2 separate regions of the Homo sapiens genome follow, and region 1 is linked to region 2. Evidence: fine-mapped expression QTL. A gene starts in region 2. The other region holds a variant in brackets. All regions are shown on one strand. Distances are from middle to middle.

Region 1 (8,328 bases), 33 kb after region 2:
CCAGGTGGCTTCCTGAGGAGGGAATAGGGAAGGAAACTGTGTTTTGCTTCACAGGAAACCTGAGCTGATAGCCTGGCCAAACAGAAGTGTGCCTTGGGCGGGCAGCCTGGCACAGTGAAAATATCTGAGGTTCACAGAAGCAGATATGGGTGTGAGATCAGGCATCATCCCTGGAAAGGTTTCCCCACTTGTGTCTAGAAAATCCCAGGTCCTTAGACATTTTGACACTCATCATCCCATTTAGCCCTCACACTCTAAGGAGGCAGACACAGGGTAAGTTTGGTCTCATAATCCCCATTTTATAGATGAGGAAAATGAGGCTCAGATGTTGAAGGACGTGTACAAGGTTGCCCAGCTCCTAAGTGGCTGTGTTGAAATCTGAACTCCAATCTGCCTAACTGCTAAGTTCTAAGGTAATTTCCACTGCCCCATCCGCAGGCCCAGCCGGAAAGCTCTGGGGTCTCAGACAAATTATTTGCAACACCTGGGTTTGGGTGCAATGATGCCTATGCTGGCCTTCTTCATAGGGAAGTTGCCCAGATGAGATGAAGGCAGGCAAATAGTGGAGATGGAGAAGTGCTTTGAGGAAGTAATAGTAATAATTTGCTGAGTACTGACTACATGTCAGATGGACACTGTTCTACAGGCATTAAGAGCATTCACTCATTTTATTTTCAAGCAAACTTAGAAGATGGGTGGTGTTAACATAGACATCTTCAACAGAGATGTTAACTTCCTCTGTGGTTCAGAGCTAGGAAGAAGTGGAGCCAGGATTTGAACCCAGGTAACCTTGCCCAAAGCTTATACTCTTAATCACTACCTTTGCTGTGTGTCTACTTGTGAGGCACCATAAATGCCTTATAGGAATTAATTGATCAAATCCTCTGGACAACTCTACAAGGTAGATACTCTTACTATCATCTCTAATTTACAGATAAGACAACTAAGGCCCAGAGACAGTAAGGAATTTGCCTAGGATCACACAGCTAAGTTCAGCCGATCACAAAGCTGTGCCCTGAACCATTGCTACCCAAAGCATCAGAAAGTGCCAGGTGAGCCTAAGGAAGAAACATGAGGACTGTGCAGGTTATGGGGGTGTCTGATTCTGTTTCTGGTGGTCCAGGAGTGACCAGAGAAAGAGCTGCCCATGCCCCAGGTACCTGAACAGGAGGAGAATCCACAGTGAGCTCCTCCACGGGGTTCCGCTCGGCGAAGGCAGCCACAGACAGCCGGACCAGGCTCCGCAGGATCTGACGGGGCCCTGATTCTTTCTCAGGGGACACTTTGCCATTGAGATGTCGCTGCCGTCTCAGGGTTGCAGAGGAGGCTGGTGGCCTCTGTGGGGCTTCCTCACTGCCCTGGTCTCCAGCCAGCCTCCCTGTGGGGCTGCCTGCAACCTTCAGAGGCCTGGAACGTGGCTGGCCTGTGGCAGGCTGGGGCTCGGGAAGGTTCAGGTTCTCCCGGGAGGCATTCCTCTGCCTGGGATGGTTGAAAAGGAGGTTGACCGTGTCTTGCAGCACCTCTCGGCTCTCCGCCGGTGCTCCCTGGTTGCCTTGATTACGCAGCGTCCTGTACAGGGTCGGGGTGAGGTGGAAGGGGGCCTGCAGGCAGGGGTCCCAGCCTGCTTCCATCATCGCCTCCTTGTCCACATCTTTGTGGGACTGCCCGACTTCACAAGGCTCACCTGCCTGACCCCTGAGCACAGGCACGAGGTGGATGTCTGCCTTCTGAATGTGTTTCTGGGGCCTCTTGGGCTGCTGGCGGTAGGTGGACTCGGCCTCCCGACAGTTGTAGGCCCTGTTGTCCTTCTTTTCTGTCCGGCAGATGGACATGAACAAAGCCAGGATCAACCCGAAGATGCCCAACAGTACAGCCAGGCAGATCACCGTCAGCATCGACATGCTCAAGGCCCCAGGCTTGCGGGCTGAGTCCCTCAGGTGGTCCACACTGGTGACAAACATGACCCTCAACAGGGCTCGGGTCTGTAAGGGGGGGCTTCCCTGGTCCTCTACTACTATCTCCAGCTCCCACTCACTCCCAATGAGGCTGCTGGCATTGGTGACATTGACGAACAGCTGCCCCGTATGAGGGTTGAGGATGAAGAGGTGGGCTTCATTTCCACTGCGGATGCTGTAGAGGGGCTCTCCATTTGCCCCCGAGTCTGCATCTCTTGCCACAATGGTTGTCAAAAGGAATGGCCGGGAGCTGTGAGTGGCCAGTGGAGGTGTGTCAGTGCCCGCTGGGCCCAAGCCATTGGGAGTCTCGATGGGCACCAGCAGGTGGCCTGTGGAGGCATTCACAAGCACGGAGAGGCTGGCTTTTCCATCGCTGAGCACAGGCTGGACCACCTCTGGGGCATTATCATTGGCATCCAAGAGGCTGACCCACACAGAGACACTGGATGCAAGCATGGGTTGCCCGCTGTCCTCTGCGATCACCTGGAACTCAAAGCCGGCCATCTCTTCATAGTTCAGTGACCTCTGAGCAGTGACCTCTCCTGTGTTGGAGTCAATAGCTACTAAGTGAGCAACTGGGGAGTCCTGGATGCGGTATGAGACTTTTCCATTAATGCCCAAGTCTGCATCATGAGCCTTGATGGTAATGAGGTGAAGAGAGGGTAAGTTGTTTTCCCGCGTGGAGACTTCATACCTGCTTTTCTCAAACACAGGTGCATTGTCGTTGATGTCACTGATCTGAATGCTGAGCTGTTTCTTGGCTGATAAGGGCTGGAGTCCTTGGTCTTGGGCTAACAGAGTGAGGGTATATTTGGGCCACTGCTCTCTGTCCAGTGTGGCATTGGTTAGCAACATGTATGTGTTGCCATTAGTTCTTTTCAGCCTGAAGTGGCCCAGCTCTTGGCTCAGCCAGCAGTGGACCAAACCATTGTGTCCTGAATCCAAGTCATCTGCCATGACAAGAGCAATAAAACTGTCCTTGGGAAGAGCTTCTGACACCAGTGATGGCTGGGAGGCCCATGTGACGTGGATGCTTGGGATGTTGTCATTGACATCCAGAACCTTGATGAGAACTTTGCAATGGGCTGGGATAGGATTGGGACCCAGGTCCCTTGCCTGAACATCCACCTCGTAGGCAGGGTTCTTTTCATAGTCTAGAGGTCGACGCAGAATGACCTGGCCTGTCTTGGCATCAATACTGAAGGTGTCCAGCACCTCTGGAGGCATGTGCTTACTGAGGAAGAACTCCACCTCCCCATTGGGGCCTTGGTCAGGGTCTGTGGCGGTCAGTTTTATGAGAAGCGTACCAGGTGCAGCATCTTCTTGGATTTCCAGTGCCAGTGAACTCTCAGCAAACGCAGGGCTATTGTCATTGGAGTCCAAGACGTTGACCTTGACCAAGCTGGTACCTGACTTGGGGGGGTTCCCATTGTCATAGGCAGTTAACACCAGATCAAAAAATGAATGGATTTCCCTGTCCAGCTCCTTCACCACTATGAGTTCTGCATGTTTGGTCTCATCAGGGCCCACAATGACATCCAAGGCAAAGTGCTCACTGGGAGACAGAGTGTAGGTGTGCAGGGTGTTAGGGCCTGTGTCTGGGTCAAGAGCTCTGTCCAGGGGGATCCGGGTTCGCAGAGAGGCGCTCTCAGAGATTTCCAGCTCCTGCTCGCCTTTGGGAAACCGTGGCTGGTGGTCATTGATGTCCAGCACTTGGATCTCCACATGGATCAGAGCCAAATCCCCTGTGGCAAGCACATCAAAGGAAACCAGGCAGGGATCCCACTGTCGGCACAGCTGCTCTCGATCCAGCCGCCTGCCTGTGCTGAGCAAGCCTTCCTCAGAGTCCACCTGAATGGGGAGCGCCTGAGGCAGCTGCAACACCTGGAAGGC[A/G]GCCCCAGCTTGCCTCCGCCTCTCCTCCCGGCCCAGTTCCTGGGACAGCTTCCCGATCACTGTACCAGATGGCACTTCCTCTGACACTTGGTATTTCACCGTGAGAGTGGTCACCTCCTGACAATCCCCTAAAAGAAATAAGTAGCCACCTGGCCCCAAAAGCCCCAGCAGAAGTTGCAGAAGTTGCATCATGCTTACCGCCAAGTGGGCTAGATTCAGAAACCACTAGAGTTCTTTCAAGGCTGGACAAGTCCTCCAGTGTTTCCTGGATGGCTTGATCAGCCCCGTGCTCCTTCCCCCAGAGCTGCCGGCACAACCTTGTCCCATAGTTAGATGATTATGAAACAAGCAGGACCCCAAGGCAAGGCCATCTTCATTGGAAGCGATCTGAGATGTCCAAACGCCGATCAAGAATTGCCAGGGGAGACCCCCTACTGGGGAACTAGTTGGTCCACTTCAGCAAATGATGGACAAGAGCTGGTCTAAGAGGGACCTGACCCAGTTGAGCAGGATGTGGGACTCTGACTGCCAAACAGTTGCTAGGCTGGGGAAACAGAGAAGCAGCTTTTTCCTATGGAAACCCCACCTACAGGAAAAGGGAGGGCTGTGAGTTTCAATGCCAATTAGAGAAAGAGCATTTCCTGTGAAGCTAAGTGGCCTGCCGCTGAGGAGGATGAGGCCGGGGCTCCGGGGACAGGCCAGATGGGAAGCTGCTGTCCACGCAGCAAGGCGGCTGCTGAGGGAAAGGGAGCCTCTGCATCACCAAGTGAGCAGAAAACTTGAGCCTCCACCTGCTTGCACGTGGACTGATGCCCCTCCCGGGCAAGTCATGTTTCCTGTTTCTCTCCCCTTCCCCAACTCTCTTTGTTCCTATCTTTTCCCCCATTGTTCCCCTCTCATTCCTGTCTTTTTCCCAATCTTGTTTACCTCTCTGTCTTGACTCTGCCCTGATCACCCGTTTTTGTCTCACTGGAAAGCAGCTGTGATTAACAGAGCAGCCATCAGAGGTAAACTGCCTGAGTTCAAATTCTGACTTTGCAACTTACCAGCGGTGTCATCTGGGACAAGTCACTTAACTTTCCTGGGCCTCCATTACCTCATCTGTAGAGTGGGGATGGGAGTAAGAATAGTAGCCCTTTCAGCAGGAAACTGTGAGGATTAAACGAAATGATGTAGGAAGGGCTTTGGCCTGGGCCTGGCCCCGAGTCACAGGCAGTGACGTTATTGCAAGGGGTGAGTGTTGTAATCTGCACAACTTGTCACACCCTATGGCTACCTCTGGATCTTGGATTGGCCCTGGGGCAGTCCCTGCCCACACTGACTTATGAGGGTGCCCATGGTCTTGATTCCAGAAGCTGCAAGAACCTGTGCAACTTGACCGTGTGGCTCTCCTCCCGCTTCCCTTCTGCCCCCCTCCAGCCTTGAAGTCCATTGTTCTCTGCATCTGGTCCAGACTGAGTCTCTGTCTGGGGAACCCCCAGCCTCCCACTCCTCTTGGAAGCTTTTATACGTTTCCCTCTCCCACACCTTCCCCTCCCTTTCATCTATGTCTTTCCCCCTTCCTCCAATTCTTCTCTCCCCAGTTTTGTTTATAAGAGTCCCGTGAAGCACATCTCCTTTGCTGCCCCCAACTCTCCTTTTAGATGTTTTAAGGGATACCCTATCTTCCACTCACCTCCTCATAAGGTGAAATTCAGGAAGGAAGGAGGTGAATGAGCAGTTTGCTTGGGTGGGCTTTGAGGTGGCCTTATTGCTTCTTATTGTGCCCTTCAGTTTGCTGCCCCCAACATTCTCCCAGCCTTATACCCACTTCAAGGTTGATCCCTGAGGCTCATGAAGCATTTGAGGTGATGAGAATGAACGCCAGCTTCCCTAGATGGGTGTTTGCTACTAAGCCCTTGGGGCCAGAGATGCCATGTTTGGACCCAAGTGGCACTAGTCAGGGCTTATTGGCATGGAGGCCTGTGGTCATCAGGACTGGGGTGGCTAAGGGACAGTCACCTGCACTCCTTCCCTTTCTCTCTGGCTTTTCTTTCCCTTAACTCCATATCCCACTCCTGAGGTTTCCCAACTATTTCACTGAAACCCATTAAACCATAGCAAGGGGCCTGAATCCAGGGCCACCTCCTACAGCATGGCCCTGGAGACAGACAGGCCACTCACAAGCTCTGAGACACTGCACAAGGGACTTAACCTCTCCTAGCCTCTGTTTCCTTCTCTGAGGGCTGTCATCGATCTCACAAGGTGGGGTAAGGACTCAGCACAGGGCCTGGCTCAGAGAAAGCACTCAGCACATAAGGACTATGATTTTGCTGTTTATTATCTTCCAAGTTTTATGCCTCATACGCAAATGGCAAAGATGGCCTTGCATTTGTCCCTTCACTTTTTTCTTTGCCTCTTTGGCAGGAATCCCATTTCTCAGGTCTCCCTCAGCTTGGTGTGGGCAAGGTGCTGCCTAAGCTACTAGGAGCCCCTGGGAGCTCAGGGACACAAGGGTGCCCATTGCCCCCTGCTGGCAGCCCACGTGACAGTCTCACTATCCGCCCCGCAATCGTCCCCCTGTGTGCCTGACAGTGAACAAGGCAAGGGGCTGACAGTCGCAGGTGGGGGCAGGGAAAATGAAAGGCGAGAGGCCAGTAGAATGGCTCTGGAATCAGGCCTGGGGGTCCGGGAGGCTCCTCATGGAGGGCACACGCTGAATCCTGACGGACCTGGAGGAGTGAGCCCGAGGAAGTTGAATAGGCAGGAGACAGGCAAAGCTGGTGGCAGGGGCAAAATGGGCAAAGGCCCCGAAGTGGGCAGGCTGGCTCCTGGCTGTGCTGCAAGAGGGTCAGTGCAGTAGTGTAGGGAGGAAGGTTGGGCAGGGGACATAAGCAGGGGTCCTCAGATGATGCAGTGGCCTGGGTTCCCATGGCTAAGAATTTAGACCTTGTCCTGAAGGTCGTGGAGTGCTTTTGAAAAGCTCTACGCAGGATAATGAGAACAGCGACCACATGCCAGGCCTTGTCCTAAGTGCTTTACCTACATCCTCTCATGACGCACTCACAGCCATACCATCACATTGAAGATGCTGAGCACACAGCGTTAGGTAACTTGCCCAAGATCACACAGATGTGCCCTCCAGAAAGGCCTTTTGGCTGCACCCTGGAAAATGGCTTGGAAGGGAACAGAGAAGAGGGAGGGAGCCTAGTTGAGAGTAATGCAGGGGAGCTTTGATGCAGAAAACTCGTTTCCAGAGCGCCATCTGGTGGCCAAAGGCAGAGAAAACGGCACAGAGGCAGGGACCGGGGACAGCCACGAAAACAGGAAGTGGGTGCCTGGGGTTCATAAATATCCACAGCTCCAGCCCCGTGCTACACAGAAGAATACAACAGGAGAAGCTACTCACTGATGACAATAGTATCTCTTAATGGAAAACCTAACGTGGACCAAGGCCACAGAAGGAGTTATGGAATTCATGATAATTTTACTTGTGTTAACATTTATATTCTTCAGAGGACATTGTTTTATCTATATATATTTTACATGCAGTTATATATCTGTTGGGTGTGTGTGTGTGTGTGTCTGTGTTTTGACTGGGAATGTGAATGCAAAAAAATGATGCATAGGTCGCAAGAAAGTTTGAATTTAGATTTCATAGGTGGTTTTTATTGTTTGTTTTATTCACACTGGGGACATGAAGCTAAGATTACCCTTTGAGATTTCAAAGCTGGCAAACAAGGCCCCAGACTTTTTTAAGGTGATCACCTCTGGAAATGAGGTCCCCATTTAGCAATTTTCTCTCCTCCTTCTGGCTGCAGGGGTCAGCTGATCTTTAGCAGTCAAATGCCAAGGGGTGAATGGAGCTGTCACTAGAGTTCGTCTGGAAAGGCGACGTTTTCCTGAGTTTTGAAAATAGGTTTGAAGGAGTGGAGGTACTCTGAAATAGGTTTGAAACAATTGAGGACAGCCTCCCTTAAGTCCAAAATATTTTTTTTAAAAGGGCAGGATTAGGGTTTGTGCTTGAAGGCCTCACTAACCACCAAACTTGGGGTTGTTCACACTTGGGTTCTTAACCACAGGGAGGGCTGAGGGGTGAAGTGGGAAGGGTGGGGGTTCAGAGAATCTTCTTAAAACACCTGGAGTCCTAAGGAACCTTGAGGGGTCAGACTAGTAAGGTGTGACTCTGACCCTTGGAGGACTCCCAGGCCAGCTGAATGAAGGCTGAGATCACACCTCGCCCCTACGAATGTCCCGCTGGGCTGGCTGCCCCACTTCCAGGGCTCTGGTCTTCCAGGCTTTCTCCTCGTGAATCTCCCCTGTGGTTGCCACAGCATCACCACCAAGACAGCTTTGGGGAAGCCAAGAAGCATCCTCCGGCTTATCCCAGGTAGGGAGGTGGTTGGACCGTCCAAGCTCAGCGTCTTTTTTCAGGAAGATCTTGTTGAAGTTAGATTCCTAGTCAGACCAGGAATCTTGACTGGGAGACTCAGGTAGATGT
Region 2 (8,328 bases):
GTGAACCACCCACCTCGGCCTCCCAAAGAGCTGGGATTACAGGCGTGAGGCACTGCGCCCTGCCCACATCCATGTTTTAAAATTGTTATATACTTAGCATATCCTTTAGCACTAAATAAGCTGTCATATATTTGATTAATGCAAATTAAGAATGCCTACAAAAATGAAGGCAACAAGTATCTAGAATACTCACTGTAGTGACAGTACACAAAGTACACAATGGCATGTGTAGTCATCATGAAAGGTGATTAACTGGACAGCAGGCAATAGGTTCCCAGTGTCAGTTTACCTTTGTGGAGGATTGAGTCAACTTGAGGGACTGTGTAGAGGGACTGAGCCACAATCCAAAACCACAGAGTTTGGGGTCTGGCAGTTGAGGCAGCTGCCATTCAACCAACAGCACTCCCGTGAGCTGCACTCAACAGGTGATCTGCTGTGGGCTCCAGCCACCCTCGCCATCTACCCTCACACAAGTGGTCTGATGTTTCTGTTTATGGGGACAAGAGATGCCATAATGCCATTCTATACATGGGGGCAGATGTCCTAGTCTCTCCTTCAAAACTTTTCAACTAGCTTCAAACAGGGAGGGCCCTCAATGAATGTTTGTATCTGCAATGAATACATTTCCACTCAAATCAGTAAATCCCCTGGCTGGGGTCTGGTACCCTTGGCTGTAATAATCATTAGTACAAGATGTTCTGTCAACAGGGATTGTTTGGACATATTCTTTGGGCTGACAATTTATGTCAAGCCCTATGTGGGACACGGAATAGGGAAATGCTATTCCTGTCCTGAAAGGAGAGAACTGGGAAGGCTAGAGTTACACAAATGAGATAAATACCAAGACAGCATATAATTACTGCTAAACTGTGTAGTAAGAAATTAAGTGCTATAGGAATTGGGAAAAGTAGGGAGCAGGGAGGGCTCAAACAGTTGAGGAGTCTACACTGAAGAGCTGGGATTGGGCTGAACCTTGAGAAATGACACAAACTATGGATAGTCTGAAAGGAAGGAGGGTACAAAAGACGCAGGAGGAAGAACACAGCCAAACCAGCATACTTGTTTGTTACTTTATTTTCGGGACAGCAACACAAGGAATGTGAAAGGTTGCCGTCCCAAATCCCGAAGCAAGGCTATTTCTGAATAGTTGTCCAACATTCAAACTTCTGGGCCTTTATTTATTGTTTCCTCCGCTTGCAATGCCTTTCTTCCTTCTCCACCTGGCAAGCTCTTATTCACATTTAAAGGCCCCGCTCAAATGCAACTACTTTTCTGAAGCCTTCCAAGGGATCCCACAATCCATTGTTCATGCTTCTATGGGAACCTAACCTATTACACTTGCCTGCTTACCTCCCCTACTAATATAATTAATAGCAACTTACACTTACTGGGCTTTTACTATGTGCCAGGAACTATGCTAAACATTTTTATTTATTTATTTTTTATTTTTTGAAGGGTATTCCCAAAACACCAAGTTAAACATTTTTAACATATTATTTTATTTAAACCTCACAACAATTGCATGAGGTATTTTCCCTATTTTACGGATGAAGCTCTTGAGACTTAGTGTGGTTAAGGAACCTGCACAAGATAACATACCTACGAAGTAAGCAAGCTGTGATTCCAACCCAGATTTGTGGGACTCCAAAGCCCACTACTAATCCACTGGACCGTGTTCCTGGAGGCCACAAATGCTCTTTCCTCAGCTGTCTTCTCAGATCCTAGAACGGGCTGATATATGGCTCAAAAGTTCTTTAACGGCCAGGCACGGTGGCTCAAGCCTGTAATCCCAGCACTTTGGAAGGCCAAGGCAGGAGGATCACCTGAGGTCCAGGAGTTCGAGACCAACCTGGCCAACATGGTGAAACCCTGTCTCTACTAAAAATACAAAAATTAGCAGGATGTGGTAGCAGGCGCCTGTAATCTCAGCTACTTGGGAGGCTGAGGCAAGAGAATCGCTTGAACCTGGGAGGCAGAGGTTGCAGTGAGCCGAGATCACACCATTGCACTCCAGCCTGGGCGACAGAGAATCCGTCTCAAAAGAAAAAAAAAAGTTGTCTAACATATTAATACAACTTTCAAGCCACATGCCTCGGTCTAAAAGTAGGTGCCCCCAGTACACTTTTACCCCAGGTAGCAACTTCCACTCACCTTAAAGTCACATACCTGGAGGAAGGGGATAGGGAGGAAATCTAAACATCTTATACTTGAATGTAAGCTCCGTTATTTCACGGATTCAAATGTGGTGAAAGGAACTATTTTTTTTTCCTTTTTTTTTTGAGATGGAGTCTCACTCTGTCGCCCAGGCGCGATCTCGGCTCACTGCAACCTCCCGTCTCCCGTGTTCAAGCAATTCTCCTGCCTCAGCCTCCAGAGTAGCTAGGATTACAGGCGCCCACCACCACGCGCAACTGATTTTTGTATTTTTAGTAGAGACAGGGTTTCACCATGTTGGCCAGGCTGGTCTCAAACTCCTGACCTCAGGTGATCCGCCCGCCTCGGCCTCCCAGAGTGCTGGGATTACAGGCGTGAGCCACCGGGACCAGACGGAACTATTCTTTTCCACAAAAGAACAAACACATACATAACTTTTGCCACGTCTGAAGACGAGGGTTCTAATAGGGCGCGGGTGGTGTCTCAGGTATTTTGAAAGGAGCTACCCAAGAATCTCAGCTTGTCAGGCCAGTCATTCCATTTGACCCTATCTGGCGCGTATTGGGGCCCCGACAAGGTAAGGGGTTGGCATGAAGCTGCACAGTGAGATAAAGCTGGACCGGAGCTAGAACCCAGAATCAAAGCCTTGCCCTGTGCGGTTTCTCATCGCCTACGCAGTCGGGCCCTGGCCTGGCATCTCCAGGCAGGTGGCCTTGGACGGAAGCCCGGCCTACTGGCTTCATTTGTGGGACCCCGGGGGTCCTCTCCTCCGCCCATGGAGCCTGGTTACTCCCACTTCCTCAAGCCTAGGGCCTGGAGAAGCCTTTCCTGGTTCGCGGCCTCACGGTCTGCAAGGTCCTCTTACTTCCCTGAAGCCGCTCCAGCCCCACTTCCCGAAGGTCCCGCTTCCGGGTGGCTCGCTTCGCCACCTGCGGTCCCCTGCCTCGGCTTGGGAACGCCAAGGACATCCCCCACGGAAGCCTGGGCCCACATCCCCATGCCCTTGCCGCACGTCACCGCCCCGCTGGCCCCGAATACGCCTCCGCCCTGCACTTCCTCTCTGCAGCGCCGTCTTTCCGGCCGGGCTCCCTTCTAATTGGCCAGCTCAGAGCTTCCTCGGGTACTCGGCCACTCGGGGCATCGCGGCGGCCTTTCTAGCCGCTGTCCCAAGGGTTGGTCTCGCGCTTTCGGCTGCGAGCTCTCTGTGGTGCTGGCAGCGACATGTGGCGCCTCCCGGGACTCCTGGGCCGAGGTAAGGGACGTCCAAGCAACCAGCGTCACTCTGGGCCGCAAAGACCGAACTGGAGTGGGGGCGGGCCCGAGGAAACAGCCGAAGCGATCGTGGGCCGGGTTAGAGCCAAGGAAGGCGGGGCTTGAAAGAGGGCGGGGAAGTCAGGGGCTGCTGGAATTTGAGATGTGGATGGGCCTAGCTAGAAGAGGGTGGAGTCCAAGAAGTTGGTAGGACTGTTGGGAGGGGGAGGAGTCCAATGGCAGGAGATGGTGGACTGAATGAATGAAAGAGGATTAGGGGCCAATGGAGTAGGCATAGCCAGTGAAGAGAGGAGAGGTTTAGAGTCAAAGAGCCCCAAACATTAGTGAGAGTATATGTATGAACGTTTGGTCATCTTAGAACAGTGGTTGGCATCCACAGGAGACCAGCAGAATCACATGGGCGCTTTTAAAAAACGTGGATGCTCTACCCTGAGAAATCTTAGTTTATTGGTTCTGGGGTACTACCCTAGAATCTGTAGTAGATAAAAGATTCCCATGTGTATCCATGTTTAAGAACCTCTGCTGAGGCAGATGACAGTGATTCCTGGGTTCTTGTTGAGGTGCCTGAGTTTTGGTTGTTCTGTACAGCTCTTCCCCGTACACTGGGACCTAGCCTCTGGAGGGTGACTCCTAAGTCCACCAGCCCAGATGGGCCTCAGACTACCTCCTCCACTTTGCTGGTTCCTGTGCCTAACCTCGACAGGTAAGATACTGCCATTTTACCACTCATTTCCTCCCCTAGTCACCCTTTTTTTTTATTTTTTTTTTTTTGTTGTTTTTTGAGATGGAGTCTCATTCTGTCGCCCAGGCTGGAGTGCAGTGGGGCAATCTCAGCTCACTGCAACCTCCGCCTCCCAGGTTCAAGCAGTTCTCTGCCTCAGCCTCCCGAGTAGCTGGGATTACAGGCACCCGTCACCACACCCTGCTAATTTTTATTTTATTTTATTTTTTTTGAGACAGAGTCTCGCTCTGTCGCCCAGGCTGGAGTGCAGTGGCGCGATCTTGGCTCACTGAAACCTCCGCCTCCTGGGTTCAAGCGATTCTGCTGCCTCAGCCTCCCAAGTAGCTGGGATTTCAGGCATGCACCATCACGCCTGGCTAATTTTTTTTGTATTTTTAGTAGAGACGGGGTTTCACCATGTTAGCCAGGATGGTCTTGATCTCCTGATCTCATGATCTGCCCGCCTCAGCCTCCCAAAGTGCTGGGATTACAGTGTGAGCCACTGTACCCAGCCAATTTTTATATTTTTAGTAGAGATGGGGTTTCACCATCTTGACCAGGCTGGTCTTGAACTCCTGACCTCGTGATCCACCCACCTCAGCCTCCCAAATTGTTGGGATTACAGGTGTGAGCCACCGCACCCAGTCCCTGGTCTCCCTTTGCCCCTACTTGATAGCCTCTTATTTCATCATCTAGGTCAGGTCCCCATGGCCCAGGCACGAGCGGGGGTCCAAGGTCCCATGGATGGAAGGATGCCTTCCAATGGATGTCTTCCCGTGTCTCCCCGAACACCCTATGGGATGCCATATCTTGGGTAAGGCTTCCCCAGCCTGGTCCTTGACCTTCAGTGTAGATGAGAATGATCCTTCATGGGTATACAGCCGAACCTGGAACAAGGGCTAGGGAATCACTGTGTCCATTTAACAAGTAACCCATGGTATTGGAGCATATTCAAGGAGATATTGCCACTTTCCACACCCCCGCCATGTATGTTTTCCTCATTTAATTCAGTAAACATTTATGTAACACCTTGTCTGGGCCAGGCATTTTTGCTAGTCACTACGGACATAGCAGAGAACAAGATAGATACATTCTTGCCTTCATGGATCTTACAATAAATAATAATACATTGCATCTTTTTTTTATTATTCATTTTTTTTATTTTTAAATTATTATTTTTTTCTGAGACAGAGTCTTTCTCTGTCGCCCAGGCTGAAGTGCAGCGGCATGATCTTGGCTCACTGCAACCTCCGTCTCCCGGGTTCAAGCAATTCTCCTGCTTCAGCCTCCCAAGTAGCTGGGATTACAGGCACGTGCCACCACGCCTGGATAATTTTTGTGTTTTTAGTAGAGACGGGGTTTCACCATTTTGGCCAGGATGGTCTCGAACTCCTGATCTCGTGACCCACCCACCGCGGCCTCCCAAAGTGCTGGGATTACAGCTGTGAGCCACCGCGCCCGGCCTTATAGCATTATTTATTAATGTAAAGTATTATACATGCATTATCTTGTGTAATCCTTACAAAAATCTTACAAGGGAAATATCACCTTCATTTTACAGCTGAGGAATCTCAGGCTCTGAAATATTAGGTAACATGCGTAGGGTCTCATACCTGTTAAGTGGAGGAGCCAGATTTAACTCTGGAGTTCATGTTCTACTGCTTGGTTGCTGCATCAAATACAGAGCCTAGCCCGTAATAGTTGCTCAAAAATATTTGTTGAACCTGATCTATAAGGTCAGATTCTTACTAGTGAACACTAGGTCTCATAGGGCAGAGTCTTCGCTTTTCAGGCAATGTTCCAGGTGGAAGTTCTGCTTATAAGATCTTCTGAATGAAGTTGACACACACATCACTCTCATGTTTGTCACAGCTCATCCCTGCTGCTTTCGTGCTGTGTACTTTGGACAAATGACTTGACCTGTGTGACCCTTGGCTTTCTCATCTGTAAATTGGTGTCATCAGCAGAGCTGAGCCTGGGATGTCTCCATGACAGGGTTACCCCTCTATGGGGAGCTGTGGACTAAGGCCATATCATACCCTGAAGAGAGGAGCATTTTCCCATGTTGCCAAAGAAGATCTGAGCCCTAGGGCTGTCCCATAGTGAGAAGTAGGAAGTGGGCCTGGATTCCAGAAGTCCCAATGCCATCCCTGTGCTCTGTCACTACTGCTCATATGAAAGGGTCTGCACGCAAGCTGTCCTCAGTACCATGGATACTTGTCTCTGTTCTTCACAATGCTGGTGCCTTTTCTTCTGGCCTTAGCCCACACGTCACCCCCACAGACAGGCTTTCCCTGACTCCTTGTCTTGTCAGGACCCCTTTTATGCTCTGTGTAACTCTCTGATTAGTTTCCTTCTTGGCATTTAACATCACTAGTAATTACTCTATTTCTCTCTGTAGTTGTGTTTTGTCTTTCTAAACACAAGATATAAACTTCATGAGGGCAGAAATTATGTCTGTCTTACTTGCTATTGTATGCAGTGCCTGGAGCAACAAGTAAGTATCTGGGTCAACCTGTGTGTTTTTTTTAGGCTGGAGCGCAGTGGTGCGATCCTGGCTCACTGCAACCTCTGCCTCCCAGGTTCAAGCAATTTTCATGCCTCAACCTCCGAGTAGTTGGGATTACAGGTGTGCCCCACCACGCCTGGCTAATTCTTGTATTTTTAGTGGAACAGAGTTTCTCCATGTTGGCTGGTCTTCAACTCCTGGCCTCAAGTGATCCACCTGCCTCAGCCTCCCAAGTGCTGGGATTACAGGCATGAGCCACTGCACCCGACCCTGGGTCAACCTTCTTAAGCATAACATAAGGAGAGACAGGAGACAGGGAAAACCAAGGAGTCTCTGGGATAAGAGCTAGCTCAGGTCTTCTGCAGACCTGTCAGAGAAGAAACACCTTTACAAAGCTTACACCTGGAGATGTGTGTGTGCTGGGGTGGCTTCACTGGGGGAATGGGAGTTGGTGGAAGGAGGGGTTGTGCAAGACTGGAAAGAGAGCCTAATGGGGAACTCTGACCTGTTGCTATATTTGCAACTAGGTGCCAACCTACCCCATTATCTTTTTGCCTGCTTAGTCTTCGCTTATTTAGTCACTTGATCAAGCATTTATTCAGGTTGTACTTATTAGGTCCCTACTATATATTAGCACTGTGCTGTACTTGGGCACCAGAGATACATTGGTGAGTAAAACACACATGGTCCCTGCCCATGTCGTGCTTATAGACTAACAGGAGAGACAGACCTTAGATAAATAAATGTAGAGATGATTGTTTAAATGCCAGTGTGGTCAGGGCTCCAGAGAAGTTAGGGTGTTGTGAAAGTTTGTAGTCGGGGAGCTGCCCCACCTGGATTTCCTGAGGAAGTGATGTTTGAGAATAAGGCCGGGTCTGATGGAGTTGATTGGTGAAGGACCGTGTCCTTAACGTGCTGTCTTTCCCAGGGCACTCTGGCCGTGCTGGCCCTGCAGCTGGCAAGGCAGATCCACTTCCAGGCATCCCTGCCAGCAGGACCTCAGCGGGTAGAACACTGCTCCTGGCACAGTCCCCTGGACCGTTTCTTCTCATCTCCCTTGTGGCACCCATGCTCCTGTGAGTTCTCAGTCCTGGGGACAGGAGGGCTGGGCTGGGCGTTTCTCTGGGCCAGGAAGCGTCTCTGGACACACCTCAGGAAAAGAGCCATCAGCAGCTCCTTGCCTTTCCTATCTGAAGTCAGAGGAAGAGGAATGTGGGGAAGTTCTATCCACCCAGGGCATGGGCCACACCTGCCCCTCAGTGTCTTTCCATTTCCTCCCATCACCTCCAACCAAGGGAGGCCCACAGGGTCCAGACTACTTTAGATTCTGGGTGTGGCTTCCTGGCCCACATTCAACCAGTTAAATTATTCTCTGGTCAGTCACTCAGTCATTCATAAATAAATGAATCTTTATTGAGCACCTATTATGTGCCATGGTGCAGAAGCAACATAGCCTAGTGGTTGAGGCTCTGGAGTCAGATTATAGAGGTTCAAGTCCCAAAATTGCTGCATACTAGTCTTATGTCCCTGAACAAGTCACTTTTAACTTCCTTCTGCCTCGGTTTCTTTATCTATAAATTGGGGTAATAATAAAACCCACCCCATAGGTTTCTTGGGAGGACTAAATGAGTTAATACATGTCAAGGACTTAGGGCAGTGCCTGACACATAGT

Direction of the effects. Alleles are on the strand shown, and positions count from the first base shown. SD is a standard deviation of normalised expression in the study named.
In carriers of allele G in region 1, the expression in tibial artery of the gene that starts at base 3,305 in region 2 tends to be lower than with A alone (small effect, 0.17 SD a copy in GTEx).

The links. PIP is the estimated chance that this variant, and not a neighbour inherited with it, causes the effect.
Region 1: its variant is fine-mapped to the expression of DELE1 in tibial artery (GTEx, PIP above 0.99).

What each region holds. Positions count from the first base shown.
Region 1 is chr5:141,953,812-141,962,139 of GRCh38, forward strand. It overlaps PCDH12 (protocadherin 12), which reads right to left and starts at 4,391. Exons shown (of 4, transcript NM_016580.4): 1 at 1,161-4,391. The coding sequence starts at 4,040. It also overlaps a transcript of RNF14 not described here. RefSeq lists enhancers at 3,251-4,157, 4,158-5,063. The variant A/G (reference allele first, on the strand shown) is at 3,849.
Region 2 is chr5:141,920,567-141,928,894 of GRCh38, forward strand. DELE1 (DAP3 binding cell death enhancer 1) reads left to right here and starts at 3,305. Exons shown (of 12, transcript NM_014773.5): 1 at 3,305-3,406; 2 at 4,015-4,129; 3 at 4,844-4,961; 4 at 7,585-7,732. The coding sequence starts at 3,376. RefSeq lists an enhancer at 3,186-3,699.